4 linked regions of the Homo sapiens genome follow. The protein of the gene in region 4 interacts with the protein of the main gene of each other region in a biochemical or structural test. Each region holds a gene or a part of one and is shown on either strand. Other genes may lie near its edges.

The links. The genes of interacting proteins can lie anywhere in the genome.
Region 1: the proteins of DLG1 (region 4) and SLC16A3 interact in a test that uses a peptide from one of them, tested with the Homo sapiens proteins (2 studies listed by IntAct, with this or other methods).
Region 2: the proteins of DLG1 (region 4) and SEMA4F interact in a test that uses a peptide from one of them, tested with the Homo sapiens proteins (one large-scale study listed by IntAct).
Region 3: the proteins of DLG1 (region 4) and ADGRA2 form a complex in vitro, tested with the Homo sapiens proteins (2 studies listed by BioGRID and IntAct, with this or other methods).

What each region holds. Positions count from the first base shown.
Region 1 is NC_000017.11:82,227,038-82,231,841, reverse strand, and holds the start of SLC16A3 (monocarboxylate transporter 4), read right to left. Parts: upstream 2,801-4,804; 5' UTR 2,736-2,800; exon of another isoform or gene 1-2,735. UniProt on the Homo sapiens protein: Proton-dependent transporter of monocarboxylates such as L-lactate and pyruvate. Plays a predominant role in L-lactate efflux from highly glycolytic cells.
Region 2 is NC_000002.12:74,660,041-74,664,246, forward strand, and holds part of SEMA4F (semaphorin-4F isoform 1 precursor), read left to right. Parts: intron 1-2,691; coding exon 2,692-2,785; intron 2,786-4,206. UniProt on the Homo sapiens protein: Probable cell surface receptor that regulates oligodendroglial precursor cell migration. Might also regulate differentiation of oligodendroglial precursor cells. Has growth cone collapse activity against retinal ganglion-cell axons.
Region 3 is NC_000008.11:37,841,177-37,845,396, reverse strand, and holds the end of ADGRA2 (adhesion G protein-coupled receptor A2 precursor), read right to left. Parts: coding exon 3,042-4,220; 3' UTR 908-3,041; downstream 1-907. Other genes in the region: BRF2 (transcription factor IIIB 50 kDa subunit), read left to right, coding at 184-907.
Region 4 is NC_000003.12:197,137,476-197,142,388, forward strand, and holds part of DLG1 (disks large homolog 1), read right to left. Parts: intron 2,790-4,913; coding exon 2,665-2,789; intron 917-2,664; coding exon 747-916; intron 1-746. UniProt on the Homo sapiens protein: Essential multidomain scaffolding protein required for normal development. Recruits channels, receptors and signaling molecules to discrete plasma membrane domains in polarized cells.

The sequences.
Region 1 (4,804 bases), on a different chromosome or scaffold from region 4:
GCCCTGCCGCTCTGTGTCCGCTTACATCACGACGGCAGGGGCCGGCGGGGCAGACACACAGGCCTCATTTGCGGATTGGCCACTCCCACCCAGGGCCAGGGCCAGGAGCCCCCACTGGTGCCCCAAGTGGGGCTGGGCGCAAGTCCCCTTTGGGAAAGGAAGGCTGCATGTGCCGCCGCAGGCTTCAATCCTGAGCTGGCACTGCGGGGTCTCAGAGCTTTGAAGACCCCTTCTCCGCAAGGCTGTCACCGCCCTGGGGCCGGGAGGTGGTGGGGGCCGGAGCTGGTCCAGAGCCGCCGTCCCCCACCTCCGAGGCCTCCTGGACCCCGCAAGGCCGCCCCTCCACCCTAAAGCCAGTGCCTGAAGGCCAAGGCTGGAAGGGGAGTCGGGTCAGGAGGCGCCCCCTACCCCACCGCCGCCCAGCGGGCGTCGTGGGGACCCGGGGGGGAAGGTGAAGACCGGGAGGAGGCAGGAAGGCGGGAGGTGCGGGGCGAAGGGGGGAACCCAAAACTCCACCCTCGCCAGGAGAGGCCCCTCCTCGGCGCAATCCCCGCCCGGGCCGGAGGGACGGCTGGAGGGCGCCTGCGGGTTCCGGCTTCCCGGCTCTGCGGGCGGGGGTCGGCGCGGGTGGTCGAGGCTGGGCGGGGCCCACCCGGGGGAGGGGGAGGGAAGGATGCTCCGCCCGGCCCCGCCCCGCCAGCCGCGGGACGTGGGGGACGTGACCGCGCCATGGGAGGAGCCCCCGTATTGCCCGCAGTAGGCGCCCTACTGGACGCTACCGTAATTGCCGGCGCGCGGGTCCACCGGGGTCAGCGGAGCCCGGGAGCCGCGCCAGGCGTCGGGGCCTCGAAGCCACAGGGCGGGGCCGACTCCACTTGCTGCAGAGGTGGGACCAGTGGGCGCGGCTCGGGACTCGGGGGCGTCGACTCGTGAACTGCGGGTCTCGGAGCAGGAGCCCGGCGGTTCGGTTCCGTTGCGTGCGGCTGCCCGGCGTGGCCCATTTCACAGATGGGCCTGACTCGGGCAGGTGACGCTAGGAGGACGCCCTGAGCTCTGTCTGCTCCCGCCCCGCCCCTGCCCCAGGGCCCGGGCACCTCCAATGGCTCTGCGCCACTGCCCGGAAGGCCCCCGCTGGGGCCCAGAGTGTGGCCCACATTTGGCACCTCACTGGAGGGAGCGGCACAGGCCCTTCTGTCCCACGTGGCCAGGTCACCCCAGGACCCACCGCTGAGCCAGCCGAGCCTGGCATAAGGGTCACTGCAGGCCAGTAGGGGGGACCCGTCCGGCCTGACGGCTGGGCTGGGATCCATAGAGCCCTCTGGTAGCTGCCCCTCCAAAGTAAAGTGCCCCGCTCCAGTCAGTGGGGTCTGGCCTGATCGTGCAGGCCACATGGCTTTCTGGGTGGCCTGGATGGCGGGCCCTGCCCAAGGTCACATGGGGTCGTTACCAAGCCTGCCTTGAGACCAGGCCTCCAGGTGCCCACCCCAGACTCTGTCCACACCATGGGGCCCTGGGGGACAGACGCTGCACGTGCCACGGCAGAGCCCCCATGCACTCAAAGCCTCTCTGGGGGCAGACACCCCCCCACGGCCTCCTAGCACCTCCTCAGTTCCTTCCCTCCATGAGGGAGTCGAGCCCAGCCGCCTCCACACCACGCTGGCGGAATAGACCCTCCTTCAGCAGGGTCAGGCCAGCACCCACCTGACTTCCAGGCCTGTGCAGTGAAGCTGGGACCTTGGACTCCCCGGCCCCAACAGACACAAGACCTCCCACCCTTGTGCTCAGCATGGACAAGCCCCTGGGCCTTGGGGTGGGCCAACTGCCATTTCCCGCCCAGCAGGCCTGACTCTGGCCATCACCAGGAGAGGGACCCTTTCAGCCCATGCCTCTGGGACAGAGAGGAGGACAGCCGCCCCTCGGCTCCCCCCATCGTCCCTCACCGACTCCAGCCACCCCTGGAGGCCCCGGCCAGAGCTAAGGGCTTCCCTTCCACTCTGCGGCTCCTGTCTCTTGACTGGCCCAACACCCAGGGAGGCTCCTGACCAACCCACTTTTCGTATAGGGAAACTGAGGCGTGGGTTAGGAAGTGGGAGGCTACCAAAGGCTGCGCCTGGTTTTCCCACGAGCTGGGGGCCAGGGGTGGAGGTAGGGCGAACCCAGGGAGCCCAGCCTGGCTCTGGAGAGGGTCCCCCACTTCCCTGCACGGTCTCGGGCTGTTAGTCATTGCCCAAGGGCGGGTGTGGGTCGGGGAGTGTTCAGGGTGTTGCGAACAGGGGAAAGCGCCACGGCCCGAGCGCAAGTGCTCCCCACTCCCTCGGGGAGGCCACCCATACAGGGAGGGCTGCAGCAGCCCCACCAAATATAGCCCGCGCCCCCCGCCACCGCGGACCGAGCTATTTATACCCGGACCGGGCTTGGCCGCCGGCGCAGCCATCTCCTGGCCCGAGCCCAGCCCCTGAGGGCAGCCCGACGGGTGGGCGCCGGGCCGGACCGGGGGAGACGAGACTGGGCAGCCAGGTATGCGAGGGCGCGGAGGGGCGCGGCTGGCTCTCGGGAGCCCTCGGTGGGGCCCGCTCGGGGTCGAGAAGGCTAGTCCATGCCCCGGGCGCCCCCGGACCTGATGGACAAAGTGGGCGGGGTGGGGGTGAGAGCGCGGACCCCGAGGTCGCCCCCTTGCCCGGCACGGGGGAGCTCCTGGGCCCCGGCCCGCGCGCGAGCATCGCGGCCGCGCCTACCTGCCGCCGCTGGGCCGCCTCAGCCCGCCTCTCGCCGCCTCTCGCCGCCTCTGCCCGCCTCTGCCGGTCCGCTCCGCGCCGGGGGCGACTTTAAGTGCTCGGGTCGCTGGCGCGGCACGTCCCCCGCGCACGTCACCGCCTGGCGCCGCCCCTGCGCGCCCCGCCCGGACCCCGCGCCGCCTCCGGACGGGCTCCCGGGCCGCAGCTCCCCGACGGCGCGTCCCGCAACCCCGCCGGGCCCAGGGACCCCCCCAACCGGAACCGGCCCCGTCGGCGCCCCCGGCCCGGAGCTGGCCCGCCCCCTCTGCTCCTCGGGACTGGGTCTTCCCGGCCTCGCCTCCCCCGGAGTCCAGGCTCGCTTCGCCCCTCCGCCCCGCCGTCCCTCCGTTTCCCCGCCTCGGAGCGCAGCGCGGCAGGTCCCAACGTCCTCCAGGGCAGCGACCCCTCGCCCCCCAACGCCGGGGCCCCTTTGGTGGGGAGGTGCGCGCGGGTCCCGTGGGGTTCCGGCCGCCTGGCTCAGCTCCGGGGCCCACATCCTCCCTCTCTGAGGCCACGTCCGACCTGTCCCCCTTCAGACCTCCGCTTCCTCTCCGGTCCCGGTGCGGACGGCGGCTCTTCCTGGCTAGGGGAGCGGCCCGCGGCCTGCGCTGCCTGGATGTGGGGCACGGCCTCGCCCTCCCTGAACTTCCGTTTCCCCAGGTGGCTCCGCGCCCTGCGGGGCCCTACAAAGCCACCGACTCCAGCCCTGCGCCCCTGCCCCGCCCCTCTCGCGGCCCAGAACCCGACGCGGAGGCCGGGGCGGCTCCCACCTTCGGGGAGGCGAGGGCTGCCCACCCGCTGGACCTCGTGAGGTGCTTCTCCCAGCCTGTTTTCTCTCATTTGCAACATGGAAATAACGGGCCGCTTTGGGTGCTGAGGTTTGAGGTGGCTCCAGGGAGTAAGGCCTTTGTTGGCCTGGACCAAGGAGTCTAGTTGTCAGGGCCACCCTGCCAGGGCCACAGGAATGCTTTAACTGGCCCCTCCCGGACCCGGGGGCTTCGGGGACCGAGGCACTGGTAAGCCCGTGCCTTCACACACAAAGGAGGCAGGGGGTATCAATGGAGGACCCCTCCAGAGGGCAAGGGGAGGCCACCCCTGACAGTGAGGCCGTGTGGGCCTTGGCTCTCCATCTGCAGCCCAGCCTTGCGGGACATCAGGTCCAGTAAGGCCGCCTGTTCTTTCTATGTAATGTTACAAGCCCACCCTCCCGCTGGCATTCACAGAGGCTGGGTCTGGCCCTCACCCCTACCTGGGGCCCAACCACCCCCATCCCCAAACATCAAGATGAGGGCACGTGCCTGTGAGCAGAACACAGGCCTGTGGCAAGTGGTGAGGGGGCCTCCAACTTCACAGATGAAGACTCTACTTAGTTGGCCCGTGCTGCTCCCGCCCAGGGCAGGTGGTGCTCCCGCCCAGGGCAGGTGGTGCTCCCGCCCAGGGCAGGTGGTGCTCCCGCCCAGGGCAGGTGGTGCTCCCGCCCAGGGCAGGTGGTGCTCCCATCTTCCTGCACCAGGCGATTCATCAGTTTCTGAGGAGGGAGAGCAGCAGAGGGGTGCGAGGCACCGTGGACAGCTGCGGGAATGGGTCCCCTATGGGGTATTGCCTGCCGGGGAGGCGAGGGTACCGTGCTCCCCATCCCAGATTGTTGAGTCACCAGGCCTGCCAGCTGGGCTTGGGGCCCCCACTGAAGCCACCGAGACACCTTCCACATCTGCCTACAGCTTGGCCCTGATCCCTGAACCCTGAACCCCCACCGTAGAGCAGCAACAGGGGGAGGGAGACAGAGCCAGAGAGCCTGGGACCTCACTGCCCCCTCCTGCCTCCTGAAGGACAAAGGGGCGCCCCTGCCAGGGCCAGGTTTTCTCCCAGCTGGGAAGACGCCCAGTCATCCCTCCAGGGGTCCCAGGGAGCACCTGTGGTTTGGTTCTGACCCCCAGGCCTGGCCCCCTCTTAGGCATGGCTTCCCCTGGGTGTGGGCCCCAGGACTGTCCACCCAGAGCTGGGGTGGAGCCTCCCTGCCCTCAGAGGGG
Region 2 (4,206 bases), on a different chromosome or scaffold from region 4:
AACAACAACAACAAACAGCAACAATGACAACCATTCAGTTGAGTGTCTGCTCTGATGAAGACTTGGTATTAGGTACTTTACATTAAGGATTAAGTTTAATTCTTATCACCACATCATGATATTTAGGTATTATTTCCATTTTACAAGTAATGAAACTGAAGTTCAGAGAAATTAAGTATTGTCTCTAAGACTGAATAGCTAGCAGAGGCAGAACCAAAATTTAAACCTGTGTTTGTCTCTGGCTCTGTTCCACTATCCTGTCCCTCTAGTCTAGCCTGCAGCCCAGAAGACCTTATCTGTCTTCAATTTCTTGTGGCATTTGATGTGTTTCATGTACTAGGAACCATCTTTCTTTTCTTTGCTTTTTTTCTTAGCCACCTGGGAAAGGTCCTTCCTATGCCTTAAACTCCTCTTGGCCAAGGCCAAAGGACCAGTTCCAACCCATAGCTCAGAGAGAGCCTTCCTGTCCAGCTCCAGCTTTCAGCTTCAGGGACTTTGCTTTACCACAGCTGATTCTCAGAGACTATGCTGCTGACTAACACAATGATGATACAATGAAGAATCTCAACATTCAGATAGATAATATAGTGGAGTGGTCATGTCTCTTTCAGACCCGAGTTAAATGTCATTTTGACCATGCAATAATCATAACCTATCTAGTTAATAGGAGGCTCACCTCTTCAAAGGTTAGAAACCTGGATGATATGATGATGCTGCTGGGGAAAACTGAAAAAGAACTAGTTTCAACATATTGAGTTTTAAGGGGCAGATAGGAAATCTCTGTGAGGAAGTCCAGCAGTCAAATAAAAATATGGGCTAGAGTTTAGAAGATATCAGATTTGGAGAGTTTGGGGAATGATTTGCATAGAATATCTGGCTGGAAAGAATGAATGAGATCTTTGAAGCATATGTGAAAGCTACTAAAGGTGGATTCTTAGGATACACATGTGGGAGCTAGAAAGAAGAAGAAGGAAATGGAGAAATAACAGATAGGAGGGATTCCAGAAGGGCAGAGTTTCAGGAGAGTCAAGGAATAGAATATTTCAAGGAAGGGAGTGAGTCAAAAGTATCAAATGGTGCATAAGGGTTAAAGAGAATGAGAACTGAGAAAAAGTTCATCCCTTTAGTCCTTGGAGAAATGTAAGGCAGTAGTTATAGGCATAGAAAACATTATTTGTCTTCCAGGAATAACAGGTGATCTGGTTTGGATAGAACAAAGGTCATTTTGAAAAGTAGTTGAAAATAAGTAGGTTTGGCTGATGAGGTTGTACTCCAGGCAATGGTGGACTATTTTCTCATTCTCTTGCACAAAAAGTTATTATTAAGTCAGTGACCAATACTTCAGATTAATCTTGGGTGGGTATTAGAATAACTTGGTTGGTGGGGGTGGCTAGATGATGTGGAGAAAGGAGTTTACTGCCATGGTTTAGGTGAGAGGTAAGAAGGGAAGCAGCAGCAGGTAAGTACCACATCTCTAGAGTGCCCAACCATCTTGTTAATCTCTCACCAAACCCATCTTTCTTCTCAGGTGAGGATGCTCCCACTGTCACACAGCTGGAGTGCTGTGCCTCTGTGGAGTCCTCCATTCCAGCAGACTCTTCTGACCCAGCATTCCGTTTTTGGGGACTTCAAAAGTTTTAACAGGCCTTCTTCCAGACTCTCAGTAAAATAGAATCTTGTTTGCCATCTAGAACAAGAGATGAGTAATCGGAGTGGGCCAGTAGTACACTTATTTTTCAGGGGATATATATCGATATTTCTGCAACAGCTACCATGGAAGTAATTAGGCTCCAATGACACCATATGCCCACGCCAGTTTGTGAACTAAAGATATCATCCCTGGCATTTCCGTGCCATAACTTTGACTCTCAACCAGCCACTGTTAACTTCCCTCTCAGTCCTAGGTTGAAATCATCCTTGTTTTTAGATGTTATCTTGAAGCCTCTCTTAGTGCCAAATGCTAGACTAAGGTAACTTCTGGCTGGCCCTGATGAAGCTCTTACACCTCTTGTTCCTTGCCCATGTCAGTCCCTCTGGAGTCCCTGGGTGAGGAAGGTACTTACTACCAAACTCTCACATTCTGACCTGAGCTTCAGGTCATTCTTTACTGACTTTGCTGGTTCCCCTGTCCTCTGCCCTTGGTCGTATGATGCAGCTCTGTCTTTCATCCTTGGGGTGGGGAATAGGAGGAGGATGGCCCTTGTCTCTCTAGGCCTCTGGGTTTCAGATGGTCCTTTATCAGCCTGCACTTTTCTTTGTCCTTTCTAAGGTTTCCAGTCCTCAGGAGGCCTGCTTTCTTCCTGATCCTTCTTGTCATGTAGCATATTCTCCAGCCAGTTACAAACCCTACAGTTCAGCAGTGTTTCAGAGGAAAGACCTACCTTCAGCCTCTTAGGTGCTTCTTGGGCTGTCCTAGGAATTTCTTCATCAGGGCATGTGGGTGTTGGCTGCTGGGGGAATTGAGGGAAGAGGAATAAACTGATGAACAAAGGATAGCAGAGATGAGAAATGCAGGAGTAGATGGGGGCATCAGGAATAGCTGACTGGTAATATGGGGATGATAGTTGGGGGTAGGGAGTGGAAGGGGAGAGGAATGGGAATTGACCTTTTCCTTCATCTGACCATCTTTGTAATTCTCACCATGAACCTTCCCTATGACCCCTAAACCAATTGCCCCCTTCTGGTCTATAGGATGTGTCCAGGTTCCAGCAGGTTGAAAGACTTGAGAGTGGCCGGGGGAAATGTCCTTTTGAGCCAGCTCAGCGGTCAGCAGCTGTAATGGCTGGTGAGTGGGGAGAGACAAGAACCTGTAACTTCTTGCTAATTGCCTCCTTCCCCACCCTTGCTGTTAGAATTTCTGTGTTCTTTCTTACCTTGGAATGTCTATTATTCTCATGTCTCTTTTTAGCCTTTCCTGTTCTTCCCTGAGTGCCTGTGTAACCACCTGCTTTTCCCCACCTAGTATGATATCCCCAGGATTCTCTCCACAGAATGTGTCCTCTGCACCTCTAGTGTAATGTTTCCTCTCTTAACCTCATTTTCTTTTCTCATAGTGTTTTTATTCCTGTTAATAAGTGGAATATACTACAATGCATATTGTAATAAATTTGGAAAAAGTATAAAGAAGAACATGAAGAAAACTTCTAGAACAGCACTTTCCAAAAGAACTTTATGTAATGATGGAAATGTTCTACATCTGCACTGTCCAATACAGTAGCCACTAGCTATTGTGGCTATAGAGCCCTTGAAATGTGACTAGTGTGACTGAAGGAAGGAATTTTAAATAGTATTTAATTTTACGTAAATAGGCCTGTGTGTCTAGTGGTACCGTATTAGTGTAATTCTAAAATATCTCTACTTAGAAAATTATTGCTAATATTTTAGGATATTTCCTAATACCCTGTATTCGTCCATTTGTGTTGCTATAAAGAAATACCTGAGACAGGGTAATTTATAAAGAAAAGAAGTTTATTTGGCTCATGGTTCTGGATGCTGGACATGAAGCATAGTGCTAGTATCTCCCTCTGGTGAGGTCCTTAGGAAGCGTACAGTCATGGCAGAGGGTGAAGGGGAGCCAGTGTGTCACATAGTGAGAGAGGGGGCAAGAGAGAGAGGGAGGAGGTGCTTTTTTAAACAGATCTTTTGTGAACTCAGAGTGAGAGCTCACTCATTACTGCCAGGACAGCACCAAGCCATTCATGAAACATCTGCCTGCATGACCCAAACACCTCACACTAGGTCCACCTCCAACATTGGAGGTCACATATCAATGTGAGTTTTAGAGGGGACAAAACATCCAAGCCATATCATATCCTAAATGGATATTAATGTGTGTGCACACCCATGTACATTCATGCACATACATTTGCTGCCAGTCCTTTGTTGCTCAGGGGAGTCAGTAATGACTATTAAATAAATTCCTGCTAGTACTTCTTTTGAACAAGCTGCCTGTGATTCCTCAAGTGTGAAATGATTCTATCACAAACCTAAACCTCTTCTGGAGAATGACTGTCTAATTTATTAGCAGCCACACAGCAAATTTTTTTTGTGCCACATAGCCTGAATTTTAGGTCAGACCACCCAACATGCACCTTCCAAATTCAGTGAAAAGCCATTTTCTTGTGGTAGTGTAAAGCAGGTTAATGGAAATTTTATGAGCATGTGCACAGTATAAAACTTTTAAATGTCATGCTACATGGATGTAAT
Region 3 (4,220 bases), on a different chromosome or scaffold from region 4:
CCTTCCCCTAACAAGCGGAAGACGCCCTGTTTTCTCTCACTACCTTTATTAACTTGCTGCCCAGTGAGCTTGAGTATTCCTGAGGGCAGAATAGCTTCCCCATCTTGAGTGGGCTGTCTTTCCTCACTGTGGGAGAGCAGCCCCTATATCATTAAGATCCAACCCTCATTTTGGTTATTTCAGCTTCAAACTGTTCCAAGCTTCACCTTCTGTGCCAGCCAAATACGTGGAAGACAAAGAGAAGATGCTGTCTCGAACAATGCAGTTGGTGGAGCTGGCAAATGAGACGTGGCTGGTGACCGGGAGGCATCCCTTGCCCGTCATCACTGCTGCGACTTTCCTGGCTTGGCAGTCGCTGCAGCCTGCAGATCGGCTTTCATGTTCCCTTGCCCGATTTTGTAAATTGGCAAATGTGGACCTGCCCTACCCGGCGTCCTCCCGCCTGCAGGAGCTGCTGGCTGTGCTGCTGCGGATGGCTGAGCAGCTGGCCTGGTTACGAGTTCTGAGACTTGACAAACGGTCTGTGGTGAAGCACATCGGTGACCTTCTCCAGCACCGCCAGTCACTGGTCCGCTCTGCCTTTCGGGATGGGACAGCAGAAGTGGAGACCCGAGAGAAGGAGCCACCGGGGTGGGGACAGGGGCAAGGAGAAGGGGAGGTGGGAAATAATTCCTTAGGTTTACCCCAGGGGAAGCGGCCGGCCAGTCCTGCCCTTCTCTTGCCACCCTGCATGTTGAAGTCCCCGAAGCGGATCTGCCCTGTACCCCCTGTCTCCACTGTCACTGGAGATGAGAACATTTCTGATAGTGAAATAGAACAGTATTTGCGTACCCCTCAGGAAGTTAGGGACTTTCAGAGAGCCCAGGCTGCTAGACAGGCTGCCACGAGTGTCCCTAACCCTCCCTGATGGATATCCACTGGGAGCACTTCATCCTGTTCTGACAGCTTGATAACATTCCTGTTATAACCAAGGATGGAAGTGTACACCAGTCCGTAGGTATTGCTTTTCTTGTTTGAAGGAACCAAGAGGGGCTCTGCCATTAGTTGGACCCTGGGTCCTGGAGTAAAGTCAGGAGTGCAGGGATGACTATAGGTAGGAGAGATTCCCATCCCTTGGTGTGGGAGAGCAAGTTGCCTATGTCCATGTTCTGTGAGATGGCTTTCCTCATAGATGGATGGGAAAATGTCAGGCTCTTTGCTGCTGGTTTGAATTGGACACACTGCTGCGGCTCCTCCTGCAGGCCTGAGGGGGCTTCCCTCTGCTTGTGGAGTGGTTGGCATTCCCAGCAGTATCAACCCTCAGAGGAGCGGGAACTGGGGAATTCTGGCCCTACGTGCATTCACAGGCAATGATGGGTTTGTGTGTATGGTGTCATGAGATCCTCTACCTCATAACAAAAGGACAGTGGGTAGACTAAGGCAGTAGCTCAAAGGGCTTTGCAAAATTTTAATATATTAAAACAAGAGGCATCTGCTAGAAAACATTCTATTGTATAAAACCCGAGTTCTTAAAAACATGTTTTCTTTGGCACTTTCATTCCCTCCCTCCCCTTTCCCCAGCATATTGCAAAAAGCTCTCCAGTGCTAAGGCATTGGCAGGGTGTGTAAACAGCAGCCAGCATATGTGGAAGAATAATACAAAGCTTTTTTTTTTCTTCTAATATGTCTGTGCAGCAAGCATAAATAACAGGACCCATTCCAAGGAGTGTGTGTGGGTTTTCCCCCTCCCCTGTGTCCTCTGTCACCTTGGTGATGAGGCCAGAGTGATGTGAAGACTGGGAGGGAACCCTAGGTCAGACCTTGGTTTCCTGTTGTTCTTCCCAAGACCCAGGGTTCCCTCGGTTTCCATTTGGTCCTGTAGTGAAATGCTGGTGGTTGGTTTTAGGTTGGGGAAAAGACGGGTGCTGGTGTTTAAAAGGAGTAAAGGCATAGGCCCCTCATGACCTGCAGGGACCCCAGCCACTGCCTCTGGGCTTGGCTTGAGCTCCTGGGAGTCGGGAAGCTGGTTTGACATTTTGTAGGTTTCTCTCTACTGTGGAGCTGGAGATCAAATGATTGGGATGGTTCTTCCTCTGGCCTTACGGAGGCAAGGAAGTGCTCTTCCTTAGTCCCGTGGTGTTGTAAGGCTGAGACTAGGGAGATGGGTCTTGTAACTGAAAAGTAACTGCTTCTCCAAACACCACCTGCAGCTTTCTGGGGCACCATTGTTTACAGGACTAGCTTTAGGGCATGACTAGATTCTGCCCCAGTTCCACCTGCCCTCTCCCTCTACTCCCCTCAGTTCACCCACAGGCACCTGGCAGTCAGCTGTTGAGGTGCAGGGCCTCAGCTTTGTCCCGGTGTGCCACCTCTGAACCCTGCTGTCTGGTTTAAGTACCACTCCTGTGGGAATGGTGGCATTGTTCCTAGTTGTGCCCGGTTCCCACTCCCCTCCCCCAGGACTGGTTGATGTCTAGAGCTGCCTTTCACGTGGCCCCACCCTCCCCTCTTGCATAGTGGATCTGAAAAGCAGCACCTTGTGACTTAACATCACCTGCTTCATGTGCTGGGCTAGCTCTCGTGCCAGCCAAACTCGGGAGGAAAAGGGACCTAGGATCTAGGCAGGGGCTGGGCTGAAATCAGTAGAGGGCAGGGAGGAAAGAACACAGTTCCCACGCTCTCATCTCTGCTTTGCTGGTGAGGCTGATGGCCCCCAGTGAGGCCGCATGGACAGTAGGCGGGGTGGGAGTACTTGGGGAGGGTGCACCTGGGATGTGCTGTGCCCTTTCACACAGACGGAGGCCTTCCCCGTTCCTGGGAGGGCACCGACAGTCAGACTGCCCCGGGCTGGACGGAAATGTATTATGCGTGTTTCTGGGATTGTCTGTCGCTACCCCAGAGGGATGCCCTCTAGGCAAGTGGGGAACATCCGCCTGTGGGCTTCCTCCAGCCATCGGCTCCTCTGCCTCCAACCTGCTGACTACGGAGACACCTTGGAGGGCCCCGAGGAGCGGGGGAACGAGCCGCGTGGCCAGCCCGTCTACCGCGTCGCCCGCCCCACCTTAGACGGTAGTTTCGCTCTTCCAGAGTCCGGTCTTCATGCAGCCGCCGCTGGCTACCTCCGCGCCCATCAGGGTGACGTCGTCGTACTTGCCCCCCTTGGGGGCGCCGTTTAGGCTGGCGGCGTTGAGCGGGTACGAGCGGCGATGGCTCTCCTTCTCCAGCGCGCCGCCGCCCTTGAGACTGTCGCGGCTGGCGCTGCGGCGCTGGCCTGCCCGGCCCGCCTCAGAAAGCGGCGCGGCGCTGGTGTCGCTGCCCTCGGACGGCGTGAGCATGGGCTCGCCTTCCAGCTGCAGGCCGGCGCCCGGGCTGTTGCGGCTGCTGCCCAGGTAGCTGTCGGTGGGGCTGTTGTGCAGACTGCCGCTCTCGCTGGACAGCAGCTCCAGCGCCCCCGCCGCGCCCCCGCGCAGGGCCTTGAGCCGGTTCTTGCCGCAGGCCTCCCCCGCGCGGTGTCCCTTGGCCCGGCTCTTGTGCGCCCGACGCCCGTGGTGCACGTTGTTGGGGTGGCGGTGGGCGAGGTTTCCCCGGGTGCCCGCCGGCTCCGGCTCTCCTTCCCCGCCGGCCGCCGCCCCCGCCTCGCACACCTGACTCTGGGCCAGCTGCAGGTTGGTGAGCTTGCAGGGGCCCAGAGCCAGCGGATGGCCGCTGCTGCCGCTTGGGGAGGACTTGAGGGAGGGGGGGCCCTCCCCGAACACCGGGGAACCGTCCTCTGCGGCGGCGGGCAGGGCCCGGGGCGGGGCATGGGGGGCCGCGGGAGAGGCAGGGGGGCAGCAGGCGCGCCACGAGGCTCTCACGTCCCTCCGCCTGGCACAGTGGTGAGTGAAGACGAAGAGGCCCAGGGCGGAGGCTGCCACCCCGTACAAGCAGCTGCACACCACCCGGGGCAGCCAGCGCTGGGACACTGCCAGAGCCCCGCAGGCCCACATGGCCAAGTACAGGAAGTGCGTGGTCACCAGCGCCCCTAGCTGGACTCCCGGAGAATAGAGGCTGTCACCATCCTCCGGGGGCCCGGGCGTCCCCACTCGCGCGCTCCCAGTAGCAAGAAGGGAACCTGAGTCACTCAGGAGGGGGCCGCTGCCCCTGAGCCTGGTGGAACCCCTCAGCTCCTCCCCTGCCTCCAGGGAGGCCCTGCTGTTGCCCGCCTTGGGGTTCTGTGCCAGAGGACCCCGTAAGCGTAGCCC
Region 4 (4,913 bases):
TGCTAGAAGTCTTCAATATAAGAATACTTAATACAAATAGGGACATATCCACTTATAAAACAAATAGATATTTTGTTCCCTACTTTTAAAAACTCTTAAAAACATGCTGAGCAAATATTGAATATAAAAATCATAAAAAACTTATAAATTTATATATATGCTCACTGCAGTAAAATGTATAAAAGCATACATCAATAAACGTAAGAATTTTGGGCCAGGTGCAGTGGCTCACACTTGTAATACCAGCACTCTGCGGGGCTGAGGTGGGAGAACTGCTTGAGCCCAGGAGTTTGAGACCAGCCTAGGCAATGCAGGGAGGCCTCCGTCTCTACAAAAAATAAAAAAAATCAGCCCAGTGTGGTGGTGTGTGCATGCAGTCCAAGCTACTTGGGAGGGTGAGGTGGGAGGATCGCTTGAGCTCAGGAGGCTGAGGCTGCAGTAAGCCATGACTGCACCACTGGACTCCAGCCAGGGTGACAGGGCAAAACCCTGCCTCAAAAAAACAAACAAAAAAACCCCGCAAAAAAAGGAACTTTTCAAATGCTGCAATCTTGGTAGAAATGTAAATATTCTAAAATGCTACGTAAGACAAAAATCAGTAGAAATAACGGAGAAATTAAAATCCACTCAAGTTCTGTAGAATATTACTAATACTGTACTTGGAATGTATGTCACAGATAAAGTTCATAGGTATATTTAACTCAGAGATTTCTTAAAGATTTATCTTAGTTTGACTTACCACATACCTTTAGGACCTTTAATGAGCTTTATTTCCATTATTTTTTCTGACACTGGTTTCCTTCTTTTTACATACAAGCGTACAATAGACCCTGCTTCTTTCAACGCTTCAACTGCTTTGCTATGTGTTACATCACGAACATCTACTTCATTTACTCGTAATATACAGTCATTGACCCTGAGAAAACAATTAAATATTAAAAATAAAAATTAAATATAATTTAAATATAAATTTTCCACTTTACCAATTTTTTGTTACTTCTTTTTTAAGGTAAAGAGAATTATAAATAATTCTGGAGTAATTCCAGAAAACATAAATGAAGAAAGTATATCAAAAACTAATATAAACAAATACAAACATTTCCCAAGGGCCAGCAAAAGGAACAAAAGAAATAGTGAAAATAATAGATTATATAAAAATGTTAAATAATAATTACAGCTACCATTTGCATACTTCCTGCATGCTTATTCTGTGTAGGCATTAAGACACACTTTATAAAAATAGCAAACATTTATTTAGCACTAACCACATGCCAGGCACTTTCTTGGTATTTTAACCCTCATGACACCTGTAAGCTTAATATATATTTTAATCCCTATTTCACAGATGGAGAAACTGAGGCACAAAGAATGTAAATAACTTTCCTAAGGCCACCCAGATAATAAGTGACAGAGCTGTGATTCAAAGATAAGAAAACTGAGGCTCACATCACGAGTTTAAGGTCACAGAGATAGTGTGAAAACTGAGATAAAGTAAAAATAATTTTCTGAGTGCCTATTCCAACCTATATATTAGACATAAAACAATTAAGTTATTTTTTGAAATTTATATAAAGATTAGGTCACTTAATTCAAAGGTTTCGTAGGTAAAGAACTTATAATTTGCCATGGTGTTATGTTTTTTAAAAGTCTGATTTGTTCCTAGTCTTAGCCTTTTCCCTAGTTCTGGTCTCTTTGATTGCATGGTATTCCACCAGGAAAAAAAGATGGTCATCTCAAATTGGGTAGAGAGGGTAAACAAAACATAATTAAAATATTAAAACTGGTCCTGACAAGCTTCTATATCTAACAGAATCAGGAAGTAAATGTCTACATTTACATGAATGGTCAAATGATTAATTTTTATATCTATTTGATTTCATTAATATACCACCTGTCATACCCAGTGAGAATTATAAAGCTTAGAAATTCAAAAACTGCGTAAGGCATCAACGTCCTTAAAATAAGATGCTGTTTTTAACAGACTACATAAACTCTTTAGTCCTAAAACTTCAGGGTATTTGAACAACAAACAAGGAAATAGGAAAAATGACATAATTTATGACCCTCAAAAAATCAAAGTTTGCAAAATATATCTTCCAAAATGGAACACTAAATTTAAACAGAGACAAATGTTATTTTCATCTAGTCAATAAGAAAATATATTATTTAAAGTTTGCATATAGTCTTTGTGGTGTGGGATTCAACATGGATGTGTGATCCTCTATCCTCCGTATCTTAAATAAGTTTATATACATGTTTCCCAGCCAGAGAGGAAATGGAAAATATTCTGTGAGTGTACTTAAATAAGTTTATACACATGTTTCCCAGCCAGAGAGGAAATGGAAAATATTCTGTGAGTGTATCTGAAAACACAAAGGGAAACTCATGATTTCTATAAATATGCTCACAAAGATTTAAACCATCAACCAAATTTGTTATTCAAAATGTTATAATATCTAAGATAAAACTGGAGTCTAAATGAAAACAGGAACACAATGCTTAGAGCATAATTATCTCATTCATTGACTTGAATGTTGTTAAAGCATCTACCCTATGCTAGTTATCATGATCGTGTTTGTTATTTGTATTTATCCCTTATCCAGTCTGCTTCAAGAAAAATACACAAAGTGGATTCAGCATCACAATAAAAAGCGCAAAACATACCGCAATCTTCCATCTTGGGCGGCTGCTCCCCCTGTGATAATTTTGGTAATGAAAATACTTGAGTCATCTCCAATGTGTGGGTTGTCCGTACCTCCTGCAATGCTGAAACCAAGCCCTGAATTTCCCTGAGGATAGAAGAAAAAAAATTGAGACTGAATATGATTTATCTTTATGGACAGGTTCCTGTCATTAAAGGACGCAGAAACTGTACTAACATAAGGAACACAACAAATAAAGGTATATGGGTGAGTAATATAAAGATTCTAAATTAAATGGACTTGTTCTGGAGGAAAGTCCTTTCAGAGGCATTACTGCTGAACAGGTGAGGTTCAAGAAAATACACCAAGGACTTTTGAAGTATACTCCACAGTTCTTTCTTTAAAAGTATGTGCAACTTGTCGTTGGATTAGTCACCCATCTGCAGAGGTGTCACTGTAAGTCTGTTTCTTTTAGACTGCACCTCAGCCATGTTTGGTAGGGCACATCTCTCCTAAGAGACAAATGCTGAAGTGATCTTCCCGCTGTTATTTCTGAGTAGGCAAAACCCATATACTGTTTTAGCCTTTAAAAAAGGGGGTGGCGATGGTGCTTTTCTTCTGCTAACTTGACATCAGCTTATTTTTAAATGACCAAATTGTGGCTGCTAAGTGATAGCTGCCATCAGTCCCTGACATGTTTAACCAATATACCCGATTAGCAAAAGGCATTGTTTCACACTGACTGAAAGACCAACCTGAGAACTTAACATTGGTGAATTTTCTTGACAGCAAAGTAAATTTTGCCAAAGCAGCTCTACTTTTTGCTTGTTTTATGAACTGGAGAAACAAGATTTCTGAATATGTTCTTCACAGAAAGGGTTCGACTGCTACAAAAAGCCTTTAAAAATAATTGATTTAACCAATGGTATTAAAAAATGTTTATTTCTTGAAGAATGTTCTAACTGAATTTCAGGCAACTCAAGTAAGCAAATATATGTGGACCTATCATTTAACTGTTAGTATTAAACAGTGTAAACACCCACTCTACCACCATTTGTCTTAAAATTCTATTTTAATAAAAAAATGTTTTTCAATCTAACTTCATGAATTACCTGAATCTTAAGAACAGTACCAGTGGATTATGGGAGGTTACCAAATTACTTAGGTACTCAAGTTCTTCAACCAGTGAAAAATACAATGTATAGTCCTAACTAAACAAAAGGAATTTAAAAGGCCCTGGGAAAAGATAAAAAATCAATAATATAAAAAGTTAGGAGACATCACAAACTACTATATTAAAGTATGTACAGTACATTAATACTGTGCTTACTTGAATATTACTCCAGTAGCCACCCAACTTGAGCAAGTGATCCGAATTTAAGTAGATGGCAATAAAGATATACATGTAAGAGACTCTCTCAGATTTATTTTTCTCAGATTCTATTCCAATATAAATAAATCTAATTATCTAGGATTTCAGTCTTGAGTATACACACATTTAGTTACTTAAGAAATCTGCTTGTGTGAAACACTAGATTTCCATAAAATGCTAGCCAGATAAGGTGGCATTACTATTATAACATACAATAAAAACTGAATGCAGATATTCTTTTTTCTTTTTTTTAGACAGAGTCTCACTCTGTCACCCAGGCTAGAGTGCGATCTCGGCTCACTGCAACCTCTGACTCCTGGGTTCAAGTGATTCTCCTGATTCGAGTAGCTGGGATTACAGGTCTGCGTTACCACACCTGGCTAATTTTTGTATTTTTAGTAGAGACGGAGTTTTGCCATGTTGGCCAGGCTGGTCTTGAACTTCTGGCCTCAAGTGATTCACCCGCCTCGGCCTCCCAAAGTGCTGGGATTACAGGCGTGAGTGCAGATATTCTTGAGGGAAAAACATATCTTAAGAAAATTTGCACATCTGAATTGCACCTTCAAGTCATTTTCTGATTGGGCAAGTATACCATAATTAGTTTTTAATACAGCTCTGTCTGTTAGAAGTATGGTTATTTTGCTAGAAAAGAAAATTGATATAATGACCATGTTACTAGTATACTACTTACTTAATACGAACAATACTTCATTATCATATGCATATAAACAATATAAACAAAATTAAAAAGCAAGAAAAATCTGAGAAACTATCACAATCTAGAGGGGTCTAAGGCGGCAGGATAACTAAACGTAATGTAGTTTCCTGGATGGGCCTCTGAGAGAGAATAACATAAAAAGTAAGGAAATAGAGACTTCAGTTAATAATAATGTATGAAT